Linked DNA regions of Homo sapiens: regions 1 and 2 are each linked to region 3. The links come from fine-mapping of genetic effects on gene expression. A gene starts in region 3. Each other region holds a variant in brackets. All regions are shown on one strand. Distances are from middle to middle.

What was found.
Region 1: its variant is fine-mapped to the expression of LOXL3 in whole blood (TOPMed, PIP above 0.99).
Region 2: its variant is fine-mapped to the expression of LOXL3 in whole blood (INTERVAL, PIP above 0.99).

The regions. Positions count from the first base shown.
Region 1 is chr2:74,568,745-74,578,793 of GRCh38, forward strand. M1AP (meiosis 1 associated protein) reads right to left here. Exons shown (of 11, transcript NM_001321739.2): 6 at 7,712-7,874; 7 at 6,694-6,835. Among named protein-coding and RNA genes, the nearest start is that of DOK1, 19 kb to the left of the region's middle. RefSeq lists enhancers at 2,403-2,502, 3,500-3,709, 8,741-8,920, 9,740-9,839. The variant C/T (reference allele first, on the strand shown) is at 5,319.
Region 2 is chr2:74,329,083-74,339,131 of GRCh38, forward strand. SLC4A5 (solute carrier family 4 member 5) reads right to left here. Exons shown (of 31, transcript NM_133478.3): 3 at 9,773-9,821; 4 at 4,945-5,095. Among named protein-coding and RNA genes, the nearest start is that of SLC4A5, 9.3 kb to the right of the region's middle. RefSeq lists a silencer at 4,273-4,362 and an enhancer at 5,865-6,054. The variant A/C (reference allele first, on the strand shown) is at 6,171.
Region 3 is chr2:74,548,051-74,558,099 of GRCh38, forward strand. It overlaps LOXL3 (lysyl oxidase like 3), which reads right to left and starts at 5,892. Exons shown (of 14, transcript NM_032603.5): 1 at 5,826-5,892; 2 at 4,272-4,596; 3 at 2,135-2,298; 4 at 1,319-1,533. The coding sequence starts at 4,584. It overlaps DOK1 (docking protein 1), which reads left to right and starts at 6,670. Exons shown (of 5, transcript NM_001381.5): 1 at 6,670-6,764; 2 at 7,104-7,403; 3 at 7,525-7,618; 4 at 7,844-8,028; 5 at 8,258-9,501. The coding sequence starts at 6,705. The coding sequence ends at 9,064. It overlaps M1AP (meiosis 1 associated protein), which reads right to left. Exons shown (of 11, transcript NM_001321739.2): 11 at 9,833-10,049. RefSeq lists silencers at 727-1,046, 4,712-5,006, 4,992-5,286, 6,012-6,761 and enhancers at 4,992-5,286, 6,770-7,287, 6,912-6,971.

The sequences.
Region 1 (10,049 bases), 21 kb after region 3:
ACCTTCCAAAGGGAGGGGATATACATAATACACCAGGCTTTCAGTGGAAAACTCTGGAGGGCCAGGAACAAACCCTGGATAGACTGAGCATTAGCAGGACTGCAGCCCAGCCTTGACTCAGCACAGTTTCTAGTGAAACAGGATGCTCAGCCACCACTCTGTCTGCCTAGTGTGGGAAGGGTGAGCCCTCTCTAGAGAAAGCTAACACCAGCTGGAGTCTCTACAATTTATTTATATATGTTATTGCCAGGTGTGACAAAAGACATGTGCCACATGTCTGAAAACCAAGAGAAAAAAGAGACAATAGAAACAAATCCATAAGTGATCCAGGTATTGGGGTTAGGTGACAAGAACCTTAAAATAACCATGATTAGTATATTTAAGAAATTAGATGAAAATATGGAGAATTTCTTCAGAGAATTAGAATCTACAAAAATGAAACAAATGGAAATTGTAGAACTGCTAACCAACCACTATGTGGAAATCATGTGTTAGACATGTGCTGGGTGCTTTACACACGCAATATTTAATCATCTTAAAAACCACATGAGGTATATTTTATTGTCTATATTTTATATGTGATGGGACAAGAGTTACTAATGTGTGTGTCATGCACCTTCTCCCTCACTCTACTTTTTTTTTTTTTTTTTTTTTGAGATGGAGTCTCACTCTATCACCCAGGCTGGAGTGCAGTGGCGCGATCTCGGCTCACTGCAACCTCTGCCTCTTGGGGTCAAGTGATTCTCGCGCCTCCCGAGTAGCTGGGACTACAGGCATGTGCCACCACCCCCAGCTAATTTTTGTATTTTTAGTAGAGATGAGGTTTCGCCATGTTGGCCAGGCTGGTCTTGAACTCCTAACCTCAGTTGATCTGCCCACCTCTGCCTCCCAAAGTGCTGGGATTACAGGTGTGAGTCACTGTGCCCAGCCCTCCCTCACTCTACTTCTATTGATTAAAGGAGAAGCCTTATCAGCTTTATTTCTTAGTATTTTAAATAGGTAGAAAGAGACAGGACCTGAGAGAGAGGAGGACTACATTATGTCAGAGAGGCTAAGTCAATTTATAATATATGGCTGAGAGAGGGAGGAAGAGGATTGAGAGAGAACAGGGACTGAGGAGGTAGAGATAATTTGTGTGTGTGTGTGTATGTGTGTGTGTGCATGCGTGTGTGTGTGTGTGTGTGTGTGTGAAAGGTTCTAGGAACAGCTTCAGGTTAGAGATAATTGAGGAGTGGGGGAAGAAAATTTGAGAAATGTCATTATGGGTTATGAACTAGATCCTTTTTGGTGTCCTTTGAATACACAAATCACTTTAAAATTTACTTTTGGGCCTCTGATAGTGCTTCCATATATGCCATTTGTGCAGAGACTAAGCCACGTAGGGGCCATTAAATTTGTTAGGGTTACAAATAGATGAATACACCAATACTTAGTGAGGGTAAGCAAGTTGCCTAAGTTCACACAGTCGGGAAATAAAAAAAGCGTCAGGAACCTAAGGCCGTCTGATTCCACAGTCCAGGATTTTCCTGGACAACACAAATTATATTTTACTACAACATATTAGAAAACTGCCTTGCCTTGACTCCTCCAAAAAGAGAAGTAAGAAAGGGGGGAATTTCTATTCTGGGCCTAAATTTGACCAAAGCCTAGGAATTGGTTAGTAAAGTGGGGAAGCGATAGAAAAGGCACTATGTCAATCTGGAGTTTGGGTAGTCAAATTATATCTGAGACTTTAATCTCAAACATAGGATCCTATATTTAAAAACCTATTTGAAATATGTTTTTCTCCAAAAAGAAACAGCATACAAATGTCTAATGACAAGTGGAAGAAACTAGAGAGCTCCCATTCAAGAAGTACCATTTGAGTTTGGTCTTTCAGGATAGGGTAGGATTTGAACACACAGAGATGAGAGAAAGGTCAACATGAGCAAAGGCTCAAAGGTGGAAAAATTTAAGGTTTCTGTATTAATTTGGTTGGAGTGTATGGTACATGAAGGGGAATAATGGGAGATAAGGTGGGACCTTGAATATTAGGCTAAGGAATATGGACTTTATGGATAAACAATAGTAAGCCACAAAGTATTTTTCAGCTGAGTAGTGGCAGAATCAGTGCTGAATCAGATTAATCAAAAGATTAATCTGTTGGCATTATGTGAAATGGACTAGGAATGGGAAGCACTAAAAAAGCATTGAGACAAGTTGAGAGATTATTGCAGTATTAAAGGAAAGGTTAAAAGGGCTTGAATTAGGATAGTGATAACAGATGCTATAGGGATAGAATAGGCAAGGTGTAATACGTGATTGAGTATTGATACATAGAAAAACATGTGATAGGGGAATGCTTCAAGGAGATTAAGCTAGTGCCAATGTGCAGGGAAAACCAGAAGAGAGAGAGATTGGAGGCAGGGAAGCCAGTTAGGAGTTTACTGAAGAAGTCTTGGTGAGACAAGCAGTGGGAACAGGAAGTAAAGGAGAGTTACAACTCATGTTATGAGTGGAAAATTGATATGACTTAGTGATGGAGTAGGTGTAAAGGGTGAGATGGCTGAAAGTGACTGAGGTTTCAAGCCTGGGTGACTAGACAATGGCGGTGCTGCTATTAACAGAAAGGCAGAAGTTAGAATGAGAAGTTGGCTGGAGGGGAACATTACAGTGAAAAACAGAAGGCAAGAGAGTTAAATATGGAGCTGACTTGAAATCAGATTTTAAAAGAACATATGAAAAAGGTATATGAAAGAATAAAAAACCAAAGATGGAGTTAAAGAAGCATGGCAAACTTGTAAAAATAGGCTTAGGAGGTTAAAACCCTAAATAAGTCTCGTCACACTTAAAAATATTTGTGTTGAATTAATGAGCTGAAGTTTGTGAAAAGTTTGTACTCTATAACATACTGCCATTCAGGATTTTTGCTGCTTGGAGAAAATGTCATGTGAAAAACAAGAAGGAAGAGGCATTTAAACACTGTTTTGCGGCCAGGCACGGTGGCTCACACCTGTAATCCCAACACTTTGGGAGGCTGAGGTGGGCAGATCAACTGAGGTTGGGAGTTTGCGACCAGCCTGACCAACATGGAGAAACCCCGTCTCTACTAAAAATAAAAAATTAGCCAGATGTGGTGGTGCATGCCTGTAATCCCAGCTACTCGGGAGGCTGAGGCAGGAAAATTGTTTGAACCCAGGAGGTGGAGGTTGTGATGAGCCAAGATTGTGCCATTGCACTCCAGGCCTGGGCAACAAGAGCGAAACTCCGTCTCAAAAAAAAAAAAAAAAAGAAAGAAAACTGTTTTGCTGCTGTCTTTTCCAGAATAGGAGAGTGGTCTTTAATCTAGATGAGGTGGACCAAACGGAGTAAAGAGAACAGCAGTACAAGATGAGTAAGCCGTTGTTATGAGTACTGTGCCATTTTAAGTGAGTTCAACTCCGCTGAAGTACAGAAGCATAGGGTGTAAGTGAAGGAGAATTAGCTTCAGTGTTATAGTCTGTATTTATCTGGCTACATCCAGAGTAGGGAATTTAGCAAAGAAGTTAAAAACATGGGCTTTGTAGTCAACAGAACTAGGTTCAAATTCTTTTTAAATTTTCTTTCTTTCCCACCCCCCCTAAGCAGTGTCTCCCTCTGTCGCCCAGAGTGCAGTGGTGCGATCATGGGTCACTGCAGCCTTGAACTCCTGGGCTCAGGCAAGCCTTCCACCTCAGACTCCCGAGTAGCTGGGACTACAGGTGTGAGTCATTGCTCCTGGCTAATTTCTTAATTTTTAATAGAGACAGGGTCTCACTCTGTTTCTCAGGCTAGTCTTGAATTCCTGGGCACAAGTGATCCTTCTGCCTTGGCCTCCTAAAGTGTTGGGATTACATGTGTGAGCTAGGTCCTCAAACTCTGACAAGACTACTTTGGTAGCTGTGTGACCTTAGGTAACTTACTTGGTCTTTTTAGGCCTCAGCCTCCTCCATCTGCAAAAGTTGGGATAACAATCTCTACTTCAGATTATTGTGAGGATTAAATGAGGTAAAGTATGCAAAACACTTGGTTAAGTGACTACCACTTAGTAAATGCTCCAAAATATGGGTATCTACTAGTGACAGGTCAACTACATCCCTGCCCTTTTCCAAGACAGAAGACTAACAAAGAAAAGGTCTCTTCATCTCTACAACAGTGCTTGGCATACAGTGGTGAGTAAATATTTGATAAATAAATAGACAGATAGATAAATACAGATCCTCAAACCCTGAGTTTAGTGGCAGGGAGACTCTAATCTCGTGTATGTAAGCCAGGATGGAAGGGAATACTTTTTCCCATCCTTATTATTACTATTTTTTTTTTGAGACAGAGTCTCACACTGTTGCCCAGGCTGGAGTGCAGTGGCACGATTTCGGCTCACTGCAACCTCCGCCTCCCAGGTTCAAGCGATTCTCCTGCCTCAGCCTCCCAAGTAGCTGGGATTACAGGCATCTGCCACCACGCCCAGCTAATTTTTTATTTTATTTTATTTTTAGTAGAGACAGGGCTTCATCATGTTGGCCAGGCTGGTCTCGAACACCTGACCTTGTGATCCACTCACTTCGGCCTCCCAAAGTGCTGGAATTACAGGTATGAGCCACCGTGCCCAGCCTATTATAACTATTTTTTGAGACAGGGTCTTGCTCTGTCGCCCAGGCTGGAGTGCAGTGGTGCGATCTTGGCTCACTGCAACCTCTGCCTCCCGGGTTCAAGTGATTCTCATGTCTCGGCCTCCTGAGTAGCTGGGATTAGAGGTGCGTGCCACTATGCCTGGCTAATTTTTGTATTTTTAGTAGCTGTGGGATTTCACCATGTTGGCCAGGCTGGTCTTGAACTCCTGGCCTCAAGTGATCCACCTGCCTTGGGCTCCCAAAGTGCTGGGATTACAGACGTGAGTCACCACACCAGGTTATAGTTCCTATAACTTTTCCCCTACTTAGGACATTTGAGTTGTTTCTAATTTTTCACCACTGTAAATAACACCGAGATGAACATGCTGGTACATATATCTTCATCCCTTTCCTGACTGTCTTCTTTGGCTACATTCCCAGCAAAAGGAAAGGGTATCATTTTCCGGAAAATTTACATCCTCTCTAGCAGTGTATTAAAATGTCAATGTATGTTTAAAATATCAAATACTGTAAGAATGTATTGAAGCCACCTGGGAGAAATTCCTCCCATGTGATGTATCATCTCAGATTCTGAGGAACTGGGTGGAGTAAATAGTAAACTGAGCTGTTGGGCACTAACAGTTACAACGGCTCCGTTGTCTCTGCTCTGCAAAGACAGGAGATGGGTGTTCTTCAGACAGGAAACAGGAA[C/T]TCAGTGGGTGGACCTAAAAGGGAGTGCGGGCTTCGAAACAGGAAAAAAAGAAGTCTGCTTCTGATAGTGAAAGAGATGCATTGCTGTGCTGTCCTGATCATCCTACTAAGTCAAACCTTTATTCTATATCTGTCCTTGCATTCTATTTGCAGTTGTTTTAATTTTGCTAAGTGTTGTGTTAGTTTCATGTGACTGCTTTTATTTTTTCCATTTCAGGGAATGACATCCATCTAGTTGTTCAAGTCAGAAACCATGCAGTTATTTGATACTTCCTCTTTCTCACTCCCTATATCCAATCTCTCAACCAAGTTCTGACAATCTTCTCTCTAAAATATTTCTACACTTGGTCATAGCTAAAAGGCCAAGAAGCGATTCTAAAATATTTCTCTAATTGGTTTGCTCATCTCATCTTGACTTCCAATGTTCTAGTTCAAACCACCACGGTCTCTTGACTAGTCTACTGCAATACCCTCCTAGCTCATTTTCATGTTTCCATTTTTGCTTCTGCGAGTTCATTTCCAAATTTCTGCCCAAGTAATATTTTAAAAACTGAAATAGATAATGTTATTTCTCATGATTTGTTTCCCTAAGTCCAAATCCTTAATTTGGCCTACAAAGCTTTGCATGATTTGACCCCTGCTCACCTCTCCAACCCTACCTTTTGTCACTCTCTCCCTTCCTCCCTGTTTCAGTCACAATGGCTTTTCTGTTCTTGATTTTTCTCTCAGCTCTTTCCAGCCTTAGGGTCTTTGCACATGCCTTTCCTTACACCTGGAATGCTCTGCCTGCCACCCTTCACCTGGTTAATTCTCACTTATCTTGTAGGTCTTAGTTTAAATGTCACTTCTATAGACAGGCTTTCTTATAGCAGCTTTTTCTTTTCCTTTATAAACTTCTCATAATTAAGAATATATACATTTCTGTTTCTTCCATTGGAGAGTGGGTTTCTTAAGGTCATAGGTAATGTCTTTTAGGTCACTACAGAATATATATCTAGGGCTTGACACAATGTCTGGCATAGACTAAATGCTCTTCATTTAAATGAACCATAACGTCTATCAGTGTTAGGAAGGAAGTAGGTTTTAAAATACAGGTACGTACGGAAAATTCCCTGTTGCCATTTAAATGTTAAGCTTGCCAATCGGGGATTTTCAAGTTTAGTGTTGTATAACTGAATTCAGGAATTATTCTCTATAGCATGAAACCAACAAAAGGCAAGTCATATTTACTCCAAATTTCAGAGTATTTCCAGTTTTTTCTGTCTTCTTGAGGGTTGAGGCAGATTTAGGATTGGGCAGAGTTAGTTAGCTGCTTTTCTGTGGTTGGTACTTTAAAAACGATTCTTCTTTTTCACCTGGGGACATGGGTACTCACCAGCAGGCTGTGACACAAAGCATGGAAATGTTGCTGATTTGTCTCCAGCTCATCCCAGTCCAGCTGCCAACAGCTTGTAGGTCTGAGGATGAACGGGAGTCCATATGTCAATGACTCGCAGAGCCCGCTAGATTTTAAAGCCCTAGGAAGAGATAATTACAGTCAAAGACTCCTTAGTGATATCTAGAACCTCCACCTAGATCCACTTCAATTCAGCTTAACTCTAAGACAGTACTGTGAAAGCTTTTAAATTAGTGTCTGTGAACTATGCATCTTTGTATGGCCAGCATCTAGCATAGTATCTAGCACACAGAAGATTGTCAAAGTTCAGGAACCTGTGCATGGGCACAGTGGTAGGAACTGGGAAGAGTTGAAGCAGACTCTGCCATTATTGCTAATTCATTGTGTTTTTTTGTTTTGTTTTGTTTTTCTTTCAAGATAAGGGCTTGCTCTGTTACCTAGGCTGGAGTGCAGTGGTTCAATTAACTCACTGCAGCCTTGAACTCTTGGGCTCAAGCGATCCTCCTGCCTCAGCTTCCCAGAGTGGCTGGGATTACAGGCATGAGCCACCGTGCCTAGTCTGCTAATTCTATCCTACAATTGGTTCTCCTGGAAGAAGGAATTCTAGTACTTAGAGAAATGGGAGGGGGCAGGGGTAGATCCTATGTACCACTTACTCCTTGAAGGTTGGATCTCTGTCTTGATGCCTAAACAAAGTAGCTATTCAATAAACATTTACTAAATGGATAAACACCTTTTTAATGAGTCAAAAGAAAAACAATCCTCATGCAGACCTCAGAGTGTTCTACTGCAGCGCTTCTCCCACCATCTGCACATTTGGCCTCCACATGCTGAGTAGCCTGTCTTTGCTTCCTCATGCCATAGCTGTAACTGCTACTTCGGAACTGACTCTTGCCTGCCTGACACTTAAGAGATACCATCTATCTCTGGAGTTCCTAGCCACAGAACCACTAAGAATAGCATTTGCATGGATTGGGGAGGTTCCCTTGGACCATACTTGATCACTTGGAGCTTGTAATGAGAGGCCGATGACTGGGAAGCCATCTGGTAGAGTGTGATGAAGTCTCCTTTAGGGTCATCCATTCTCAAGGAGCCGTCAGCTGTGCCAGCGAGTAGGGATGGGCAGAGCAGTCGCTCTTGGAGATCACATTTCAGACACACTACAATAAAAGGAGATTACATTTCAGACACACTACAATTGGAGGAAGGATTGTGGGTAATAAGTTACCTTAGGCTATGCCATTAAGAGACAACATCTGCTACCCATTCCATCTCTACCAGGCAAGCAAGGGATAGGAGGAGGCAGGAGAGTGGAAAGAGGAAAGCCTGACTGGTTTGGAAAGGGAGAACAGGTCTGGAAGCTATAGTATCTCTATCGCTCTACATAAAAGTTAACTTATCTTCAAGAGTCTGACATGATCTTTACTTGTTTTACTTCTGGGCTGGCTGAGCAGTTGTCTCATAGTGAGACATCTGGCTTGTGATCCAGTCTGAGGAACATGTATCCTCTGTGGAGGAGGTAGCTAATGCCAAAATATGCAGAGGCCCTTTGGCAATCACAGAAGGAAATCTTGCTTCTGCTGCTTCCTTGTGGCTAAGCTTTGGCAACAGTGCAGGTCAGATGAAGGAAGAGCAGTAAAGCAGAAGTCAGGCAGTCAGATGACTGCTACTGTTTCTCTGTGGGCTCGTTCAGGGACATTCAGAGTGGGGGGAAAGGAATAAGTTCCTGAAATAGCTTATTTTTTAATTCCCCAAAGAAACATGAATTTAGGACCTTCTGGGCCTTGGAGCATCACAGTGGCATCAGACAACAGTTCTGAGGAATGCTTAGGCTAGGTAGGAGTTACTCATCTAGGTATTTTACTCTTCTGCATTAAGCTTCTGCTCCAGTAGGTAACTGCATATGCCATAGTGTATGATGATCTGTTACACAAGCTTAAATCCTTGATATTACAAAGTTCTTCAATAAAACGTATACCTGGCTTGAATAGTGATAACAAACTTGTGAATATACAAATGTTGAGTACTTCTGAGAAGGCTGGTAGTTGATGCTAGTGACTTGTGAAATGACTGTACTAACTGCAATATGAGGTAAAAAACAACATAGAAAAAAATAGAGTGGCAGAACAGATGTTAGATCCAGCTGGCCCTCCTGGGCCCTGTGAATAAGACCTAGACATTAGGTCTTATCACATTAGACATTGTGAATAAGACATTCATTCTGGGTGAGACGGCCCTCAGCCTGACATGTCCCAGAGCACAGGAAGTCAGTAGGAGGGACTTTGCCTAGGACTCCAGCTTCCTCTTATTTCCTCTGTGCCTGACTTCTCCATTTCCGGTCCTGAGGCTTTAGGACTGGACAGCTGTGTTCATCTGGCAGAGGTTTTCAATTCTGGTTGCAGTAAGAATCATCTAGGGCAGCAATCCTCAATCATTTTGGCATTAGCGACTGGTTTCATAAAAGACAATTTTTCCATGGGGTGGTGGGGGATGGTACTGTTCCACCTCAGATCATCAGGCATTAGTTAGATTCTCATAAGGAGTGCACAACCTAGATCCCTTGCATGTGTAGTTCACAATAGGGTTTGGGCTTCTATGAGAATCTAATGACATAGCCGATCTGACAGGAGGCGGAGCTCAGATGGTAATGCTTGCTCACCTGCTGCTCACCTCCTGCTGATCCAGTTCCTAACAGGCCACAGGGGTTGGGGACCCCGATCTAGGAAACTTGAAAAAGATACTGATGTCTGGGCCCTACCCCAGACCAACTGAATCAGGGTCTCTGGGGGTGAAGCCCAGACACTGGTATTTTATTATACTTTAAGTTTTGGGGTGCATGTGCACAATGTGCAGGTTTGTTACATATGTATACATGTGCCATGTTGGTTTGCTGCACCCATTAACTCGTCATTTACATGAGGTATTTCTCCTAATGCTATCCCTCCCCCAAACCCCCACCCCATGACAGGCCCCGGTGTATGATGTTCCCCACCCTGAGACACTGGTATTTTTTATAAGTTCCCCATGTGATTCTTACTGCAGCCTGGGTTAAGAAATACCCAAACTGTGGTCTCAGCAGAGTGTCCCAAAGCTGGGAAAGCTGTTTTAGCTGGGCTTGAATCTAGAACCAGGTGTGCTTCTCCCACCCAGAGCCCAGATGCAGATGTGGCAGACACCATACCTAAGAACAAGAAAAGAAACTCATGTGTAACTCACTGTGTGCTCTGTCAGAGGAACGCCTTTCTAAGGGAAGCACCTAAAGACGGGGTGAAGGGCCCTAGGCAAAGAAGCAGCTGGCATCAGATAGAGAACCTTGTAAGAAGGAGTCAGAGTGA
Region 2 (10,049 bases), 220 kb before region 3:
GCTGACAAAAGGAGAGGTGGTAGGAATGATGGAGAAAATGATAGAGGCAGAGGTGTTGGTTGTAGAAGTAGCAGTAAAACGGTGGCAATGTAGATGAAGGTGTAAAGTGTAGGTGAAGTTATGAAGTACAGATGCAGGTGATGAGGTATAAATGGAGATGTGGGGTATAGATAGAGGTGTGAGGTGTAGATGGAGGTAATGAAATGTAGATAAAGATAGTAAATTGGCCGGGTGTGGTGGCTCACGCCCGTAATCCCAGCACTTTGGGAGGCTGAGGCGGGCAGATCACCTGAGTTCAGGAGTTCGAGACCAGCCTGACCAACATGGAGAAACCCCATCTCCACTAAAAATACAAAATTAGCCAGATGTGGTGGTACATGCCTGTAATCCCAGCTACTCAGGAGGCTGAGGCAGGAGAATTGCTTGAACCCAGGAGGCGGAGGTTGCAGTGAGCCAAGATAGTGCCACTGCACTCCAGCCTGGGCAACACGGCGAGGCTCCATCTCAAACAAACAAACAAACAAACAAACAAACATGGTGAGGTGTAGATGGAGGTGGTGTGAGGTGTAAATGGAGGTGTGAGGTGTAGACAGAGATGATGAGGTTCATGTAGAGAGAGGTGGTGAGATGTATATGGTGGTATGGGGTATAGATGGAGGTTCTGAGGTATTGACGGTGGTGTAAGGTGGAGATGGTGAGGTGTATATGGAAGTGATCAGATGTAGATGGAAGTGTGAGGTGTAGATGGGGGGTGAAGTGTAGATGGAAATGTGATATGTGAATGGAGGTGGTGAGGTTTACATGGAAGTGATGAGATGTAGATGGAGGTGGTAAGTTGTAGACAGAGGTGTGAGGTGGAGATGGAGATGGTGAGGTAGTGTATGGTGGTGTGAAGTATAGATGGAGGTATGAGGTATACATGGTGATGAGGTGTGGACAAGGGTGGTGAGGTGTAGATGGTGATGGTGAGGTATAGAAGGAGGTGTGTGGCGTAGGTATAGGTGGTGAGAGATAGGTGAGGGTGGTGAGGTGTAGATGGTGGTCGTGAGGTGTAGATGGAGGTGGTGATATCTAGATGGAGGTAGCGAGGTCTAGATGGAGGTGTGTGATATAGGTGTAGGTGATGAGGTATAGGTGAGGGTGGTGAGGTGTAGATGGTGATGGTGATGTCTAGATGGAGGTGATGAGGTCTAGATGGAGGAGTGTGGTGTAGGTGTAGGTGGTGAGGTATAGGTGAGGGTGGTGAGGTCTAGATGGTGGTGAGGTCTAGATGGAGATGTGTGGTTTAGGTGTAGGTGGTGAGATACAGGTGAGGGTGGTGAGGTGTAGATGGTGGTGGTGAGGTCTAGATGGAGATGTGTGGTTTAGGTGTAGGTGGTGAGATATAGGTGAGGGTGGTGAGGTGTAGATGGTGGTGGTGAGGTCTAGATGGAGGTGGTGAGGTCTAGATGGAGGTGTATGGTGTAAGTGTAGGTGGTGAGGTATAGGTGAGGTTGGTGAGGTATAGATGGTGGTGGTGAGGTCTAGATGGAGGTGGTGATGTCAGATGGAGGTGGTGAGGTCTAGATGGGGGTGGTGAGGTCTAGATGGAGGTGTGTGGTTTAGGTGTAGGTGGTGAGGTATAGGTGAGGGTGGTGAGGTCTAGATGGTGGTGGCAGTGAGGTCTATATGGAGGTGCTGATGTCTACATGGAGGTGGTGAGGTCTAGATGGAGGCAGTGAGGTCTAGATGGAGGCGGTGAGGTCTAGATGGAGGTGTATGGTGTAGGTGTAGGTGGTGAGGTATAGGAGGTGGTGAGGTCTAGATGTGGGTGGTGAGGTCTAGATGGAGGTGTGTGGTTTAGGTGTAGGTGGTGAGTTATAGGTGAGGGTGGTGAGGTGTAGATGGTGGTGGTGAGGTCTAGATGGAGGTGGTGATGTCTAGAAGGAGGTGGTGAGGTCTAGATGGAGGTGTGTGGTTTAGGTGTAGGTGGTGAGGTATAGGTGAGGGTGGTGAGGTGTAGATGGTGATAGTGACGTATAGATGGTGGTGGTGAGGTGTAGATGGAGGAGGTGAGGTCTAGATGGACGTGGTGAGGTCTAAATGGAGGTAGTGAGGTCTAGATGGAGGTGTGTGGTTTAGGTGTGGGTGGTGAGGTATAGGTGAGGGTGGTGAGGTCTAGATGGTGGTGGTGAGGTCTAGATGGAGGTGGTAATGTCTAGATGGAGGTGGTGACGTCTAGATGGAGGTGTGTGGTTTAGGTGTAGGTGGTGAGGTATAGGTGAGGGTAGTGAGGTGTAGATGGTAGTGGTGAGGTGTGGATGAGGGTGTGATGTGTAGATAGAGGTGGCAAGGTGTAGATGGAGGATGTGGAGGCAGTGATAGTGATGAAGGAAGGAGTTAGAAGGCCTTGTGCATGAAGAAATAGAAGATTGTTGTTGCTATTATGCTGATAAATGTGGAAGAACCTGTCCTCCTTTGATTACACATGTGAAATGGTGAAATTTCACCATTAGGAGTCTGGAGACCCTTATTCTTTCAGAGCCATGGTACCTTTGGGAAATCACCTCTCTGGGCCTCAGTGTTCTTGGAGCAGAGTTTGCTCTATTAAATGGCATTTGTCAGGGGGAAATCTACCTCTCTCCCTCCAAGCACTTTTGCCTCACCTTATAAAGTGGGAACTTCTGTCCTTGCTGCAGCCTTGAGAAAAGTACTCTCCACTTACTGCTCTACCTCTAAACTCATGCTATCTAGCAGAGGATGAGTGGTTCGTGTGCTTGGAGAATTGGAGCACATAAAATGGGCATATGTCATGACTCAGGTTCTTCTGGATTTCCTCCTTCTGGGAACAGCCTCCTCAGAGAAGGCCTGTGCTTCCCTCCTCTCCTCTTCTTTTCAACCTGCCCTAGGAAGGGCAGGTTCTTGCGTTGTGGGATAGGGGAGTCTTCCAGTTCTGGGTAGATAAGTTTCATTCTGAGGGAAAGAATTAGGAAGCCCAACTGTACATTCAAAACCACATTCTCCAATCAGCTTTAGCTGTCATAAATTTATTTTAGTTCCAGCTGCTGGACTTCTATATCTTATTTCTCATTTGATTCTAAGCACAGAGGGGTTGTGAACAAGTCTCATTCTCAAAGTCCAGCACTGAAGAATTAGTAAAAGAGTCCACATAGACTGGGTTGGACTCAAGGATCTCTTAAGTTTCTTTGAAACTCTACTGCCCTACGATTCTATGTGTCTAAGTGAAATTATCGCTGAAGCAAAATAAACATACATTGACAGTTCTGGTCAGATGTTGGGACTCTTAATGGATAACTTCCCAAGCTCTGACTCCCTTCTTTCCTGCTTTTCAACTGCATGAAGACCTTTGATCTTCAGGCATCTTCCTCTTCTCCCCATATACCAGCTCCTCATGGCTTCATTTACTTCCCCTTCTGGTCTGGACATCATAATGAATCCTTTCCTCTCTTCTCTCATTGATACTCATAACCTCTTATTCCTGCCCTGCCAATCTCTTGGGCAAAATCAGTCCATTCGTTAACTTTTTCCTCCTGCACAAAGTACTCTTTTGTCTCTGGAAAAAGCCTGTCTTCAGTGGGAGAGAGAAAAGCCAATACACAGAATGGCAGAGGGGTGTCCATTTGTGTGTGTGTGTGTGTGTGTGCGTGTGTGTGCGCATGTATGTGCATGAAAGAGAGAGAGAGATGAGGAGGGAGAGAAAGACCTAGTCCTGTGATGTGTATGGCCAACCTCATCCCTGCCCTTCCCTGTGGTTTAGTTTTGTAAGCCAAAAAATGTTGAGAGAAGATATGGCTACCCCTTTTCTCTCTGCTCCCTGTCCTCTGGCCTCCTTCCATGTTACAGCCAAGGACATGCCAAGCCAGCCACTCAGCTGTGGCACTGAAGTAAATGCTTGGGGGATACTGTCAACTCTTCCTCACCACCAGAGTGGTAACAGCTGAGGCTCATGCACTGGTCTTGGGGAAAGGGAAAGAACTGGCCCCAGTGTTCCTCAGCCACAGGTGTCTTCCCCTGGGCACATCTGGCAATGTCTGGATCTATTTTGGTTATACTGGAGGGAAGGTCACTACTGGAGGGAGAGTACTTCTGGCCTCTAGTGGGTAGTGGTCAGAAATGCTGCTAACGTCCTACAAGGATGGCCCCCACAACAAAAAAATTATCTGACCCCAACTATCAATGGTGCCATGATCAAGAAATCCTGGATTAGGGCATTCAGTCTCTGGTTCTAGGCTCTCACTCAGGCAAAAGGAGCACTCAACATAGGCCCACCTCACTCGCCAGGGATCTGCCAGGAGAGGGAGCTAAAGATTCTTAGTACAGTTGGCCCTCTATATCCACAGGTTCCTAACCCAAGGAGTCAACAAACAGCAGATCAAAAATATTTGAAAAAATAAAAATAAATAACAATACAACAATAAAAAATAATACTCCCAAAATACAGTATAAAAAACTATTTACATAGCATTTACATTGTATTAGGTATTCGAAGTAATCTAGAGATGATTTAAGATAAACAGAGGATTGCATAGGTCACATTTTATGTGAAGGACTTGAGCATCTTCAGATTATGATATCTACGGGTGGTCCTGGCACCAATCCCTTGCAGATGCTGAGGGATGACTGTTTGACCTCTGTGCCTCCATTTTCTTCAGATACCTGGTGGACAGTGATGGCTGCTCACTGGGACGGATTCCCTTCCATCTCCTGGCTAAATGCCATCTGAACCCTACCTGGGTTTGACATCTGAAAGGATTTAGGTAGGTCTGACCTAGGACCATGGCATGGGGGCAAAATTCTTTGAAGAAAATAGCAGCTTCCTACCCTGGAAAGGCCTGCGGGACTTAGGCCCTTGTTAATGGGACTAAGGATTCATTTGGGGGCCCTGGCAGGCTTATCTAGAACCTTTACCCACAAGAAGTTCCCCACAGGCTGGGCAGTACTCACCACAGTATGTGCAATTTTTGGCTTCCAGATTGTTTGTGCCAAGCTTTGGCAGGTGGTACAATATTGGCTGCCCCAGATTCTTGTCTGCTTTAGCTGTTTCTGAACCATGTCCAGGGTTGAGAAGGGAACATACTGTGATGGTGTCAGCACTCTGCAGGAAGGTGAAAAAAGGTGAGAGATATGTTAAAGAGAAGCTGAGACATTGTAAGAGGCCAAGCCCAGGTGATGCTGTGGAGGAGTTCTCTTTCTTCACCACCCCTATCTACTTCCCAATCGCTGCTGTGGCCTATGGACTCGGCTCACTCTACAGCAGCCACGACGCAAGTCTTGCTGTTCCTCTAACACCCCAGGCTCATTCCCACCTCAGGACCTTTGCACTTACTGTTTCCCTAATCTTCAGCCTGACTTGCTACCTCGTGTATTCAACTATTTGGTCAAATGCCATCTACCCAAGAAAACCTTCCCTGACCAGCCCATCTAAAATGCCCCTCTCTGGTCATTAACTCTGCTTTATTTGTCTAAATGGCATTTCTATCCAAAACCACAGTATGTGTTTATTCATTTGTTCACTTTTTGTCTGTTCCTCCAATATGGCAGAAAGTTTGTCTTATTCACTGATGTATCTCTGATACCTAGAATAGAGCCTGGCTCATAAATGATTGGGTCCAAATCCTGACTCAACTAACTGTGGCATCTTGGACAACTTCTTTTTTTTTTCACTGCAATTTCCTCAACTGAAAAAAAATGCGAATAATAATTATATCTACCTCAATGGTTATCTGAATCAATGTGAAACCTTAGGTCAATGTCTGGCCCACAGGGAATAGTTAGTATTAACTAATAATATTATTATAATTATTACACCCTCAGGAAGAAGCTCACATGTGTATCCTGAGGAGGCGGGGAGGGGGATGAGCAGTATTCCTAGCAGCTTGCAGGAGCAGAGAGTCTTTTTTGCTTCTCCAGGAACCAAGTCCTGTTCTCCCGTCTTGCCTGCTCTCTGCTGCCCTCTGGAGGTCTGCAGTGGAGTCAGGCAGGGAGCTGATTCAGGGACGCCACAGATTATGTATCCTCCACTTCCTATGGGATAGCTGCTATCATTCCCATTTTACAGATGAGGAAACCACTTCTCACAGTTGTAAGTAACTTGCCCAAAGTCATGTGATCTCCTGCTCTTAATCACATGATGAAGAATGAGACATTGCTGGATGACAGTCTCTCTACTT[A/C]AGCAAGCTAGAGCCCACGGAGGCATCTTGGGCCTTGGCAGAGCTGCCACTGGAGCCATCATTTGGCACACACTATTGGGAATCATTGAGGCCACAGAGGAAATGTGGGTACCTAGGAACTCGTTCTTCAGACAGATCCCCAAATGGACCCAGAAACAGCATGCAGCCAAGCAAGGGCTGGCCCCTTCCTTCCCCTCTCCCCAGGCTGTACTTCCTTAGCCAAAGGACAGTTCTCTGATCACCTCAGCCAACCTGAGCTACCCTGGAAAGCTACTTCTCACCCTGTGCCCCTGTGCCTCTCTCTCAGAGCGTATGTCACTGGCTGGGCCAAATGATCTTCATGTCAACCTAAAATAAGAGGGCTATGGAAAGACATAGCCTCTAGAGACATCTGGGAGCTGATTAACTAATAAGAACCTGGAGACACCAGCACTGTCTGATCAAAAGATACAATGGAGGAAAAGATTTCATTTTCAATAAAAACAAAAACCCTAAAACATCTAGAAATAAACTCGCCTAGAAATGCATGTTTTATATGAGGACACGTGGCAAAACTTTGCTAAGAAACACATAATAAGACATCATATTTCTGGATGGGAAAACTGAATAGGGCAAATATGCTTAAGTTCAGACATTTATATATATTTTAAATACAATTCCAAGGGCATTTTGAATGAAAATGACCAAAAAATCATGGCTAAAGTATGAGCTTAGAATGTACTGAGTTTTTACTATGTGCTAGGCTCAGGGCTGACAGCTTTACATACCTTACCTCAATTAATCCTCACAGCAACCTCAAGAGGTCATTTCATTTATTTATTTATTTATTGTGGAGACAGCATTCTCACTCTGTCACCTAGGCTAGAGTGCAGTGGCACTATCACAGCTCACTACAGCCTTGACCTCCCAGGCTCAAGCGATTCTCCTGCCTCAGCCTCCCAAATATCTGGGACTATAGGCAGGTGCCACACCATACCAGGCTACTTTTTAATTTTTTGTAGAGATGAGGTCTCAATATGTTGCCCAGGCTGGTCTTGAACTCCTGGGCTCAAGCAATCCTCCCACCTCAGCCTCCCAAAGTGCTGGGATTACAGGAGTAAGCCACCACGCCTGGCTGAGGTCATTATTAATATTTATGAAAGACAGGTTGGGGAAGTGATTAAGAGCAGGAGATCACATGACTTTGGGCAAGTTACAACTGTGAGAAGTGGTTTCCTCATCTGTAAAATGGGAATGATAGCAGCTATCCCATAGGTTTATGATGAGTATTAAATGAGGTAACATACATGAAACATTGAGAGCAGTGCTTGGCAAGTAGAAGCACTGATATGAACTACTATTATCCTCATTTACAGACGAAAAAACTAAAGCTTAGAGAGGATAACATAATTTGCCCAAGTTCACACAGCTGATAACTGGCTGCCCTGGCCTGGGGGATGGGAATAGGGAGTCTTGCCTACAAGATCTGAAAAATTATAAAATCATAATAGTTAAAACAGGAAGCACATCTTGTATAAGATATTTTTATATGCCTTGCAAGATTATGTTCTGAAATATTAGCCAATGCCTTCTCCAGCCTGATACTCCCCTTACCTCTCTCCCTTCCCTGCCTCAAATAGCCAGGCCATTCTATGCTCATTGCTGCAGGGAAGGTGTGTGAAAACAGAAAGAAGAGGTAAGGAGCCTCTTTCCTTAGGGGAATAGAAGAGACTTCTGGCCTAGACCTAGACCAAAGTGTGGGAGAAAATGGTCATGAGAAAGATCAAGGCATTCCCTGCCCCTCACTCATATCCAAGAATAATTCCCCAGGGCAAGGACAAAGGCTGGAGGGAAGTTGAGAAACATTGACTTTGCTAGGTCCTGGAGGCTGAGGTCCCAATCCCCGCTCCCTGGACTGAGCCCCACAGAGAAAGCAGCATCCCTCACAATCTGTGGATCTGAGAGCAGGGAACAGAACAGCTGCTGGGTGTATCTAGGCCAAGAGGACCCCAGGCAAGCTCCCTGAGTGAGGCTGCTTGAAGAGGTGGAGAGAGACTTTGACCTCCACAATAACCTGCAGGCACCAACGACCCAGGACCAGATGGGACAAGGATAGATGACATGAAGGGCAGGACCCTTTGTAGGTCACTGAGAGTCTAGAACCCTGCACTCCACCCCACCCCAAACCCAAAATGGAAACTGCAAAGGAAACTCAGAACTGACTGGGATTAAGGGTCAGCACCTTTTTAAAGAGCGGGGCTCAAGTACAGATGAAGGAGAATTTTATAAACAAACTAATTTTTTTACACACTTGAGTTTATGGGCCGAAACTGGTATTCTAAAGGATAAAGTTTTAAGAAAATAGTGTTAGGGAAATGCACTGTTTAAAAAATCCATTTAGAAGAGAAGCTTGGGCAGCGGACAAAGGCAGCAACTTAAATCATTCGCAGGGCTCAGCACATATTATTGATCTCTGCTCCGAAATTAAATGTAATTGTTCCTTAAGATTGAGCTTGAATTTGCATCCCGATCTGCCTTGGACAGTAACTATCTGCCCCTGTTGTCTTGGCTTCATAATTAGTTGTGCTCCTTTCATTCTCAAAAGGGTCCCATTTTGAGCAGTAAATTATGTGGTTATTCTGCCTAAGATCTTTAAATGAGAGTGATCCCATGGGTGGGCTGACTCTGAACTAGGTATCGTGAAACAGAAAGTAAGGCTTTCCAGGCAGGTGTGGCTGGAGCCCAGTGGCGCCTGACATGGAGCCTCTGGAGGGCAGAGAACCTCAGCTGGATGGGAAAGGAAGGTAAGGTAAAGGGCAGGTGGGGCATCAAGAGAGGGTCAGGTGCTTGGTAGTTAATAGGACAGTGGCGAGATCAGAGTAGAATGTTTGAATTTAATATTTCAGAGATGGAGCAGCTAAGGATAATGGTGTGGCCCAGGTTTTGACCATAGGCATAGGAGGGAGAAATGGAGGCAAATGGAGGCCTGATTTTGTTTGGGGACAGGAACTGGGCACTGGGGAGACACATGGATGGGGGTTTGTCTCTACTCTTGTACTCTTCAAATTTTGAATCTTGTAACTGTGTTATTTTAAAAATCTACAAGTAAAATTAAAATGCAAATCAGCACCACAATGAAATACCATTTTTTACCTTTCAGATCGGCAGATATCAAGAAATTTTTCAACAGTGAGAGAGGAGGGCAATGGGCCCTCATACATCTACTTGCCAGTGAGATGCAGATAAGCACAGCCTCGATGCAGCCAGTTTGGCTGTATTTATATAACTTTAAAATGGACATACCTGGCCAGGTACAGTGGCTCACGCCTGTAATCCCAGCACTTTGGGAGGCTGAGGTGGGTGGATCACTTGAGGCCAGGAGTTCAAGACCAGTCTGGCCAACATGGTGAAACCCCATGTCTACTAAAAAAATACAAAAGTCAGCCAGGTGTAGTGGCTGTAGTCCCAGCTACTTGGGAAGCTAAGCCATGAGAACTGCTCGAACCCAGTAGGCAGAGGTTGTGGTGAGCCCAGATCGTGCCACTGCACTCCAGCCTAGGTGACAGAGCAAGACTCCATCTCAAAAAAATAAAAATAAAAATAAATAAATAAAATGGACATACCTTTTGGTAGCAGCAACTCTTTATCTGGAAGGTTATCTTACACTCCCACCTGTGGACAAAAACAGAGATGTGGTTTGGGACAGTTACTCACCTCCCTGTGCTTATGTCACAGTTGTAGTGAGAATTAAATATGATACATGGGAAGGATTTTAACAAGGGCCTGGCACATGGTAAGCATTCAGGAAATGCTGGCTGTTATCATCCGAGCATTGTTCACAGTGGCAAAACATTGGAAACAACCTGAATGTCCATGAATAAAGGACTGATTTTAAAAAAG
Region 3 (10,049 bases):
ATTAGAAGCTTGATGAAAATCTACAGGAACATTTTGCAAGAAGAGTTAGACTTTGGTTTTAAACATTTCCACAACAACTTTTAGCCATTTGGATGAAGCCAGAAGGCAAAGCTGCCATGTCTGTTCAGCAGAGGAGGCTGAGGGGAAATGACAGATGGAAAGTCACATCAGGACTCAAGATAATCTCATGGGATCATCATGGCTTTTTTATGGCTTCTAAATTATGTATCAAAACAAATGTAATAGGTAAACGTCACCTATACCTGGGTTGGAAAAGGCTGCTCTATCAGTAGGAAGCATAGGGAAGACCTGAACTGGTTTTAAGTGATGACAAGTTCAGTATAAGCAGTGGGAAGCTGCCGCAGTAGGAAGACAGTGTAATCCGAGCACGCTTCAGTCGGGGTTGAGGATTTCTACAGTAGCTGGCGGCATCAGACCCCATCTGAAGTAGTGTGCCCGCGGAAACCTATCCGGACATCAAGAGGCCTTTCAGCAATACTGATCTAGGGAACCACTGAAGAAAGGGAGGATTTTTGGCTCGCAAAATAGATTACAGTGAGAGGGTGTAAAGATTTCCAAATAAATGCCTGGCTGTCAATGGCAGTTTCTCAAAAAGATCAAAGTAGATGTTCCAGGGAAGGGAGACGTTAAGCACAGGCAGTTTCCAGGGTGATGCGTTTCCCTGGAAGCCGGACTGGACCCCAGGGCTCCAGCGCAGGTGGAGAGGTTGGGCCTCGCCAAAAGAGATCCTGGGAAACTTCCAGGACTTCCAGGAGCCCCGAGGGCTCGAGCGTTCACATACGCGCCCCGCCCCGGGGCGGCCCGGGCAGAGAGACTGGCGCGGTCTCTCCTGGCGCCCTTCGGCCATCGCGCGCCGCCGTCCCCGGGCCCCCGGACCCTGGGCGCCCAGCCTGCGCGGGACACACCCAGGCGCCGCCTCCCAGGGGCGGCCGCGTCCTTACTGAACTCGGAAATCGCTGGCCGGCAGCGCCAGCGCTGGAATCGCCCCCGCGCCTGGGAGTGGCCTCGCGAGGCCGGCGCGCGCCCCGGGGCCGAGGAATCCGCCTGCCCGCCCAGGCGTCGGCCACGAGAGAGCGGGAGCCTCGCTGGTCCCCATTTCAGGTACTCCCTTGGGGCACCTTTCGTGGTCCCACAAGATTTCCCAACTCTCCAGCTTTGCAACGGCCTCCATATTTTCCCGCGCGTCCCGACCCCCGGGTCCTCCCGTGCCCCGGACCTGCTCAGATGTCTCCCAAGGCTATTCATCAGGGAGCACCCCAATCCCGGCCTGCTCCGCCCGGCGCCCGCGGCCCCTCACCTGTAGAAGGCCGCGTTGACCCTCTTTTCGCTGGGGAAGCCCAGCATCCCGCAGACCACGTGGCTGTTGTGGGCGCTCCAGCCTTTGTCGCACACTTGCGACCAGCCGTCAGGAAGCCTGACTTCCACCAGCCCCTCCGTCACGGGCAGGGGTCGTCTGCCCCACCCAACGGCGGGTCGAATTCGCACCTCCTCCACTTGCAGGTGATGCTCTACCTGGGGGCGGGGCCACAAGCAGGGAAAGAATCCCAGTGGCACCTTTCATGTGTCCCGCCGCCCTTAAGGAACCCTGCTTGGTGTGCCTGCTGTAAACCCAGTGGCGGGATGGGCCCGAGGCGGCGCTGAGAGAGCGGCCACGATGGCCGCAGTCCGCGGTGTGGACTCTCTTGCAGCCAGCAGCGCGTGGGATGTGCTGTGCTCCCAGAGAGGATTCAGGGCACTAGGAAGGAGGCCCTCCCTGTGCCTGGAGCAGGAGGGAGCACTTCAAAAAGGAAATGGCTTTGAAGGAGGAGAAAGTCAGAAGGAAGATGTCTCAGGAAAGCAGGAACATTTGAGGAGAAGGAGAGCACCAGGTGCCCCAGGGGTGACTAGGGATGAAGCTGGAGAGGCTCATGCCAGGTTTAGCCCCTTGAATGTGAATGCTAAAAACCTGTTGGATTTTACAGCATCTGGGAGCTCTATCATTTGCTTTTCCAAGTCTCCCACCAATCCAAATGATCCCCCAGGGGTAACTACCTTCTAATGTCTCCGCTAACCACCCCACAGTACTCTCGGCTATCCTGGGTAGTGTGTGTGTGTATGTCTAGGAAATGCAGACCTCAATGACATTGGAGTCCGAGAAGCCAGGGAGGCGCTGGTCTTTGCAGATGACCCCAGCATCCTCATCGTGCGTACAGTCACTGTTCCCCCAGCCCCGGGAGGCACATTCAGTCACACTCTGCTCGGTCCCACTGCAGCTCAAGTTGTCCAGCCAGATGCGGCCTGTGGAAGGGGAGATGAAGGGACAGAGAAGCTTGGGGAGGGAGGATGGGGGAGTAATGGGGATGTAGGGAAGAGTGAGTGCTGAGGCCTCCCACTTGGCCATGATGATCCCATCTTTCTGGTATGATAAGGGGTGGAGACGGGACAGGGGACCCTGGCAGGGAATAGGAAGGGGGCATAAGATTGAGGGAAAATTGGTGTGATCTGGGGATACTCAAGAACCTGATACGGTGAATAAAAAACCAAGAATCAACCCTGAAGTTCTGATCAGTCTCTACCCATTCATTGATAGCTACAATTAATCAGGTACCTACTGTGTGCCAGGTGCTCTGCCATGGTGTGCACATATGTGATCATTCTTAGAACAGAGCTGCCAGAACACTGTTTTATATAAAGAAACTGGGGTTTAGAGAAGCTGAGCAACTTGCTTAAGACCATAAAGCCAATACGTGGGGGCTTAGGAGTTTGATCTATCTGTGAGGCTTGGATGTCTAAGATCCTTTCTTCACATCCTTGCATTCTCTCTTGTGCCCGCCCTGTCTGTGCTGCCATATAGCCCCTTGTTCTTCTCTCTGTCTGAAACCTGTTTTTTTTTTTTTTTTGAAACGAAGTCTTGCCCTGTTGCCTAGGCTGAAATGCAGTGGCATGATCTCAGCTCACTGCAACCTCTGTCTCCCAGGTTCAAGCAATTCTCCTGCCTTAGCCTCCCAAGTAGCTGGGGCTACAAGCATGTGCCACCATACCTGGCTAATTTTTGTATTTGTAGTAGAGACAGGGTTTCAACCATGTTGGCCAGGCTGGTCTCGAACTCCTGACCTCAGGTGATCCACCCACCTCAGCCTCCCAAAGTGCTGGGATTATAGGCGTGAGCCACTGAGCCCGGCCTGAACCCTGTGGAGTATCACTGGCTTCCTCTCAGAATTGGGCGCAGCCTCAAAGGTCATCTGTCCTAGCCAATGTTCAAGGACATCTCATTCACATCCCAACAGGACTTACCCAGTTGTTGCGGAGACACCTAGCTCCTGCCCCACCAGACTGTGTAACCATCAAAGTCCTTGTGACTCTTCATGACTTTCCCCTACCACATCTGATTCATTCCTTTGGTGCCAACCAGAAAAATCCTTCAGCCACACGACTGTCCTTCCCATATTTAAAAACAACCATTACGCCATTGCTATGCAAGGTTTTTACTTTCCATATCAATCCCCTGATTCTTCAGCAATTCCTCCTTGAAACTTGGCTTCTGAATCTTTCACATCTAGGCAGCTCTCCTCTGAAAGTATTTCCATTTTCTACTGTCCCTCTTAAAACACAGCATCTACAAATGACACTTAATTCCACAGGTGGTCTAGCCAGTGGGAACTGGGGAATCAGCTGCAGGTTGCACCTGCTTCTGTCCATCATTCCCACTGTGGGTTCATACCATGGGCACAGTCCTAGGCCTCACCTAGGGAACTGCTCTTAAGCCTCCACCACCCACACTCATACTTGTCCTAGATTTTATACTTGTCCTTAGACAGTACCACCTTGTTAGTTTTAGCTCTGGCCCATAACCTGATTTTGTTAGCTGCAGTGTCTGTGACCCCTTGTGACTTTGGGACATCCAGATATCATTTACCTGCTCTTAGCGTCCCATGAGACTAACTGTACTTTATTTGTACAGGGCTCACCTGTATCTGGGCTGTTTTGTGGATGGCTTTGTAGGATCATACTTTTGCAGCAGAAAAGAACTTAGACATCATCTAGTCATTTTGCATACAGGGCATCTGAGGCTCAGAGAAAGCACTGACTAGCCTAAGGTCACACAGCTCTGGGAAGTAACTATGTTGCTTGGTTTGTCATCCATGGATTTACTCAATGCTGGCTGTTCTTGGTGTCGTGTGTCCCTATGGCTGTGCCATCCTCGTGTTCCCTTTCCCTGCACTTTGGCCACACATAGGAAATATCTAGGATATGCCTGGATCATTGCTCACCTGTTCCAGGGCCATATTTGGCACTGTGGGTCCAGCCTGTGGCCTCTGTGAAGCCCAGCTCCCGGCAGAGGATGTGGGCAGCCTGCAGCGTGAAGTCATCATCGCAGATGGTGCCCCATTCACCAGCTCGCTGTATCTCCACGCGGCCCTCGTAGGGCTTCCTGGGGAAGCCAGCCAGCCGGAACCGAAGCCCCTGGCTCCCGGCCTTCTTCTCAGGGCCCGTGGAAGGGGACGGAGACCCCAAGCACGAACTGCACAGCAGGCACAGCAGCAGCCCCCAGGGGCTCCACTGCCAGACACTGACAGGTCGCATGGCAGGGAAGGCCTGGGTGCCCCAGAGACAAAGTGTGCGTGAGAGAAACAGATTGAGTGGGGCCCAGAGTCAGAAAGAGAGGGAGAAGTCACGAAAGAAAAACAGACACTGAGTAAGACAGAGACAGCGAGAGACAACAGGAGAGAAAGAGCCCCAGGGACCAAGAGACAGGGAGAGAAACACATTAAATAAGGGCTGAGGCACAGGTCATAGAGGCACAGCCTGAGAGACCCAGAGATAAGAGACAACTATGAGAGATCGAGAGTCAGAGAAGGGTCAATAAAAAGAGATAGAGACTGAGCAAGAGACACGTAGAGAGAGAGGAAGACCCAGACAGACAGGATGTGAGAGGAAGGGAGACTGTGGGAATGAGAGAGAGAAAACCAGAAAGACACAGAGGAGAGAGACAACGGATAGAAAGTGATAGGCAAAGAACTAAGCACTCAGTATAGGGGAACCAAGCACACCGCGGGTGAGAAGGAGAGGGATTGACAAGAGCCAAGGGGCGGACGTGGGAGGGATCCAGATGACCCCATTTACTCAGAGGGAGGACAGACAGCTGTACTGATTGTGCAGAGAGGCACGTAAGGGGCCCTAGGCGGCCCTGGGATCACAGATCCCCTGAATGGGAGCCCAGAGTCCTAACCCAGCAGATTCCCAGGCAGGGAAGGCTGGCACCAAAGCTCGCCTGGAGAACCTGCTGCACGCCCTCCCCAACACGCAGGCTCTCAGATGCCCTGCAGGGTCAAGAGGCCCAGGAGGGCCAGGCCTCAAGGCTGGGCGGGGGATGGGGTAGGGTTGTCCCAGCCTCCTGCCAACACCACCATCCCTGTCACCGGGCAACGGGAGGCCAGGCGCTATGGCTCCTCAGCCAAGGCCTTCTCTGCCTAGGGCTGAGAACAGCCCCTCTACAGCAAGCCCCCGTCAACATGCTTCCCCCAACCCAAACAATCAATCCAACAAGGCAGCTTTGTTCTGGGTTGGGGACCCAGGGGCAGCGCCTCCCGGAGGAGCCCCCTCCCTTAGGGCGCTCCTGGCGGCCCTGTTCGAACACCCGTAGCCCCCGCCTCCGGTATGTGCCTCCTCCGTGTACTCTGTCTCACTTGCCCTTTGACAAGAATCAAACTCTCAGTTGGGTGGCTTCCCCTCGACTCCATCCCACACCACCCGTTTTCCCTGGTCCCTCCACATCCTCTCCATCCCCTACTCATTCCCTCTGCGGTTAGCGTGACTCCCCCTACCTTGGCCGAGCAGGACCCTAAGGGCTGGGAGAAGAGTGCTGGTCCTGGAGATCAGTCCTAGGACTTCCAAAAAAAAAAAAAAATGCTCGGCCAGGGGAGACTGGACCCCCCTCTCTCCCCCTTCTCCGTTCGTCCCTCCCACATCCCCCTGAGCCCTCCCACATTCCGCCTTCTCCTTCCATTCCTCCCGGCCAGTTCCCTCCTCTCCTCCTCTGGGTCCTCCCTCCCCGTGGAGCTGGCCACTGCCGCGCCCCCTCCCCCTCCCTGGCCCTCCCGGCTCGTTCAATGAAGCTTTCTCTTCCCGCGGCATGGAGGCCAGGCCTCTGCGGTCAGGGAGCTGACATGCAAGCGGCGGCCGGGCGGCGGGGCGGCCCCGGTGGTGGCGGGAAGCGGTTCAACCCCAGCCCTCCCTCCGAGTCCCGGGCCAGCGGAGTCTAAACAGCCCGGCTCGGGCGGGGCTGGGGGCGGGCCCGGCCAGGGTAAATAAAGCCCCGGAGGCCCGTGTGGGTCTCTCCGGTGCCCGGGGCGCTTTCGGGGTGATGTCATGGCTTTCACTCTGACGTCACCTTGGGCATATGACGTCACGCGCAGCCACCACGCCCAGAGGCCAGGGCCCTCGCGCCAAAACCGAGGACTTTCGGTGGAGCCACTGGCGCGCCCCCACGACGGCGGGTAGGGGCCTGGGGTGCTGCAGCTCCCGGCTAATCCGGGGGTCTCCACCATTCCTTCTCGCTCCTCTCCCTCACCCCACCGCGACCCCCCCAGCGGCTGCCGGCGGGGGCCGGGGAGGGGCGGAAACTCCTCCAGGGAACCCGGCCCCGCCTCCCGCCCCGCCTCCCGCCGCAGGGCCAGGAAGCGCGGAAGGAACCGCCGGGGGCCATGGACGGAGCAGTGATGGAAGGGCCGCTTTTTTTGCAGAGTCAGCGCTTTGGGACCAAGGTAGTCTGGCGCATGGATGCCGAACCTTATCCGGGCTAGTAGTGGGTGAGAGAGCCCAGAAACAGGGAGAGGTGGGCAGCGGGCTGGAGAGCGGCGCCGGGAGTTGGAGAGCCTGTGACTTTCCCGTGAAGTTGCTTTGCACACTCCCGGGAAGCGTCTGTAGTCTAGGGGTTCTGGTCCTGGGGAGACGGAGTGGCATCGTCCTTGGGAAACTTCGCCCCCAACCCCGTTTGGAAGCCCCAGATCCCAAATCGACTTGCGCCGCAACCTCCTTCCCCGTCGGGACCCGGGCCGCCTGCGCACGCCACTCCCTCTCGAGCACTCTCTCTCTCTCCCTAGAGGTGGAGGAAGACCTGGGCCGTGCTCTACCCGGCCAGTCCCCACGGCGTAGCGCGGCTCGAGTTCTTTGACCATAAGGGGTCGAGCTCTGGGGGTGGCCGAGGGAGCTCGCGCCGCCTGGACTGCAAAGTGATCCGTCTGGCTGAGTGTGTGAGTGTGGCCCCCGTCACCGTGGAGACCCCCCCTGAGCCCGGCGCCACTGCCTTCCGCCTGGACACTGCTCAGCGCTCGCACCTGCTGGCGGCCGACGCGCCGTCCAGTGCAGCCTGGGTGCAGACGCTGTGCCGAAACGCCTTTCCGGTGAGGAGCTGCGGCGATGCGGGGTGGGGGCAGTTACAGAGGCAGAGAAATGGGGCTGCCTCAGACCGACCCCCGCTCCCCGCTGAGGAAATTACGGGTTTCTCGATGCTCTCTACTACAGAAAGGCAGCTGGACTCTGGCGCCTACCGATAACCCACCTAAGCTTTCTGCCCTGGAGATGCTGGAGAACTCCTTGTACAGCCCTACCTGGGAAGGTAGACGCCTCAGAAGCCCGGGCAGGGATGGAGTGAAGAGGAGGAGGGCCGAGGGCCTTTGGGAAGTGGGTGGATACCCAGGGGCCCATGGGGAAGTAAGAAGTAGGAAGGCCCTGAGATCTGGCTTCCGAGTGAGTGCTTGGACACTATGCTCATGAGTCCTCTGGGTCCCCACTGCTGCCCCCGTCCCTCCCCCGCAGCTGTCTAATCGTGTATGCCTTCCAGGATCCCAATTCTGGGTAACGGTGCAGAGGACTGAGGCCGCCGAGCGCTGTGGCCTGCATGGCTCCTACGTGCTGAGGGTGGAGGCTGAAAGGCTGACTCTCCTGACCGTGGGGGCCCAGAGTCAGATACTGGAGCCACTCCTGTCCTGGCCCTACACTCTGTTGCGTCGCTATGGCCGGGACAAGGTGCAGGGGCTGTCCGGGAGGGCTTCCTGGGTTGGGCAGCTGTGGGAGGGGTGGGGCAGGACAGAAAGTGGGAAGCTCTGACCTTTGGATCCCCCTTTCTTGCCTACCCGGTGACCCCGCGTCTGTTCGCAGGTGGTCTCTTCTTTGTAGATACCCTAACTAGTGCAGGCGTGTGACTCACTTCCTCTGATGGCTCCTGGTAATGTGTTTCCCCCTCTACCCTCCTTAGGTCATGTTCTCTTTCGAGGCCGGCCGCCGCTGCCCCTCAGGCCCTGGAACCTTCACCTTCCAGACGGCACAGGGAAATGACATCTTCCAGGCAGTTGAGACTGCCATCCACCGGCAGAAGGCCCAGGGAAAGGCCGGACAGGGGCACGATGTTCTCAGAGCTGACTCCCATGAAGGGGAGGTGGCAGAGGGGAAGTTGCCTTCCCCACCTGGCCCCCAAGAGCTCCTCGACAGTCCCCCAGCCCTGTATGCTGAGCCCTTAGACTCCCTGCGCATTGCTCCATGCCCTTCCCAGGACTCCCTATACTCAGACCCCTTGGACAGCACGTCTGCTCAGGCAGGAGAGGGAGTACAACGGAAGAAACCTCTCTATTGGGACTTGTATGAGCATGCGCAGCAGCAGTTGCTGAAGGCCAAGCTGACAGACCCCAAAGAGGATCCCATCTATGATGAACCTGAGGGCCTGGCCCCAGTCCCTCCCCAGGGCCTTTATGATCTGCCTCGGGAGCCCAAGGATGCATGGTGGTGCCAAGCTCGGGTGAAGGAGGAGGGCTATGAGCTCCCCTACAACCCTGCCACTGATGACTACGCTGTGCCACCCCCTCGGAGCACAAAGCCCCTCCTTGCTCCCAAGCCCCAGGGCCCAGCCTTCCCTGAACCTGGTACTGCAACTGGCAGTGGCATCAAAAGCCACAACTCAGCCCTGTACAGCCAGGTCCAGAAGAGCGGGGCCTCAGGGAGCTGGGACTGTGGGCTCTCTAGAGTAGGGACTGACAAGACTGGGGTCAAGTCAGAGGGCTCTACCTGAGAAGGACGGCAAGGCTGAGGTGGCTAAGGGGGACCATGGGGAGGTGGCACTAGGGATCAAAGAAGATGGTTAGAACCAGCAGAAGCCAGAGGGTGGGAGGGGCCATGCTGTGTGAGACCAGGGGACCAGAGGGATGGGAGAGTCAAGGGAAGGACAATCCCAGGAAGTCCTAAGAAGTGGGGCAGATGGCAGGGCTGAGGATGGGCTCTGCATCCCCCAAAGCCATCCCTTCCCTACTTCCCCAAATGAAGGGACGGCTGTGGGACCAGGTCTGTGGAAAGTGGTGCATGGTCAGAATGGGTGCAGTTTGAGGGGCCTGTGTGGAGGCCTCAGGGAGATGTTGGACTGTGCCTGGATCCTTACTCCTGCATTGTTCTTTGCCAGAGACCTATTTAAAAATTTTAAAATTCTCATTAAAGTCAGCTTGGGTTTAAGAAGTTTATGTGTGTGAAGAGAAAAAGAGGGGACACAGTGGTTGGGTTGGGTGTGGTGGGGATCAAGAGGAGAACCAGGAATGTGTTGAGAGTCACGGAGAGGCAAGGGGCCCAGGAAGGGAACAGAAGTGTGGCGGTTCAGTGCCTGGGGAGTCAAGTCAAGCTGCCCTGGGCTAGATGTGAGCTCTGTGGCCCTGGGTGATAACATCTGCAACCCTCAGTTTCCCCTGTGCCCCTCTGTAAAATGGAAAAGCTATAATGGGCTCTACCTCACAGGGCTTTTTGTATGAAATTAGATACATTATAAGTATTTAGTGTAATCTGAAGCACAGGGTGTTTTTTTAAAAGTTTTTATTATTTATGTAGAGATGGCGGGGGGGTCTCACAGTGTTGCTCAGGCTGGTCTCGAACTCCTGGCCTCAAGTGATCATCCCACCTCAGCCTCTCAAAGTGTTGGGATTACAGGTGTGAGCCACTGCTCCCAGCCCAGAGTAAACATTTTATAAATGGTAGCTATTATTCTGTGGATGGAGGGAGCAACAGGAAGGTTG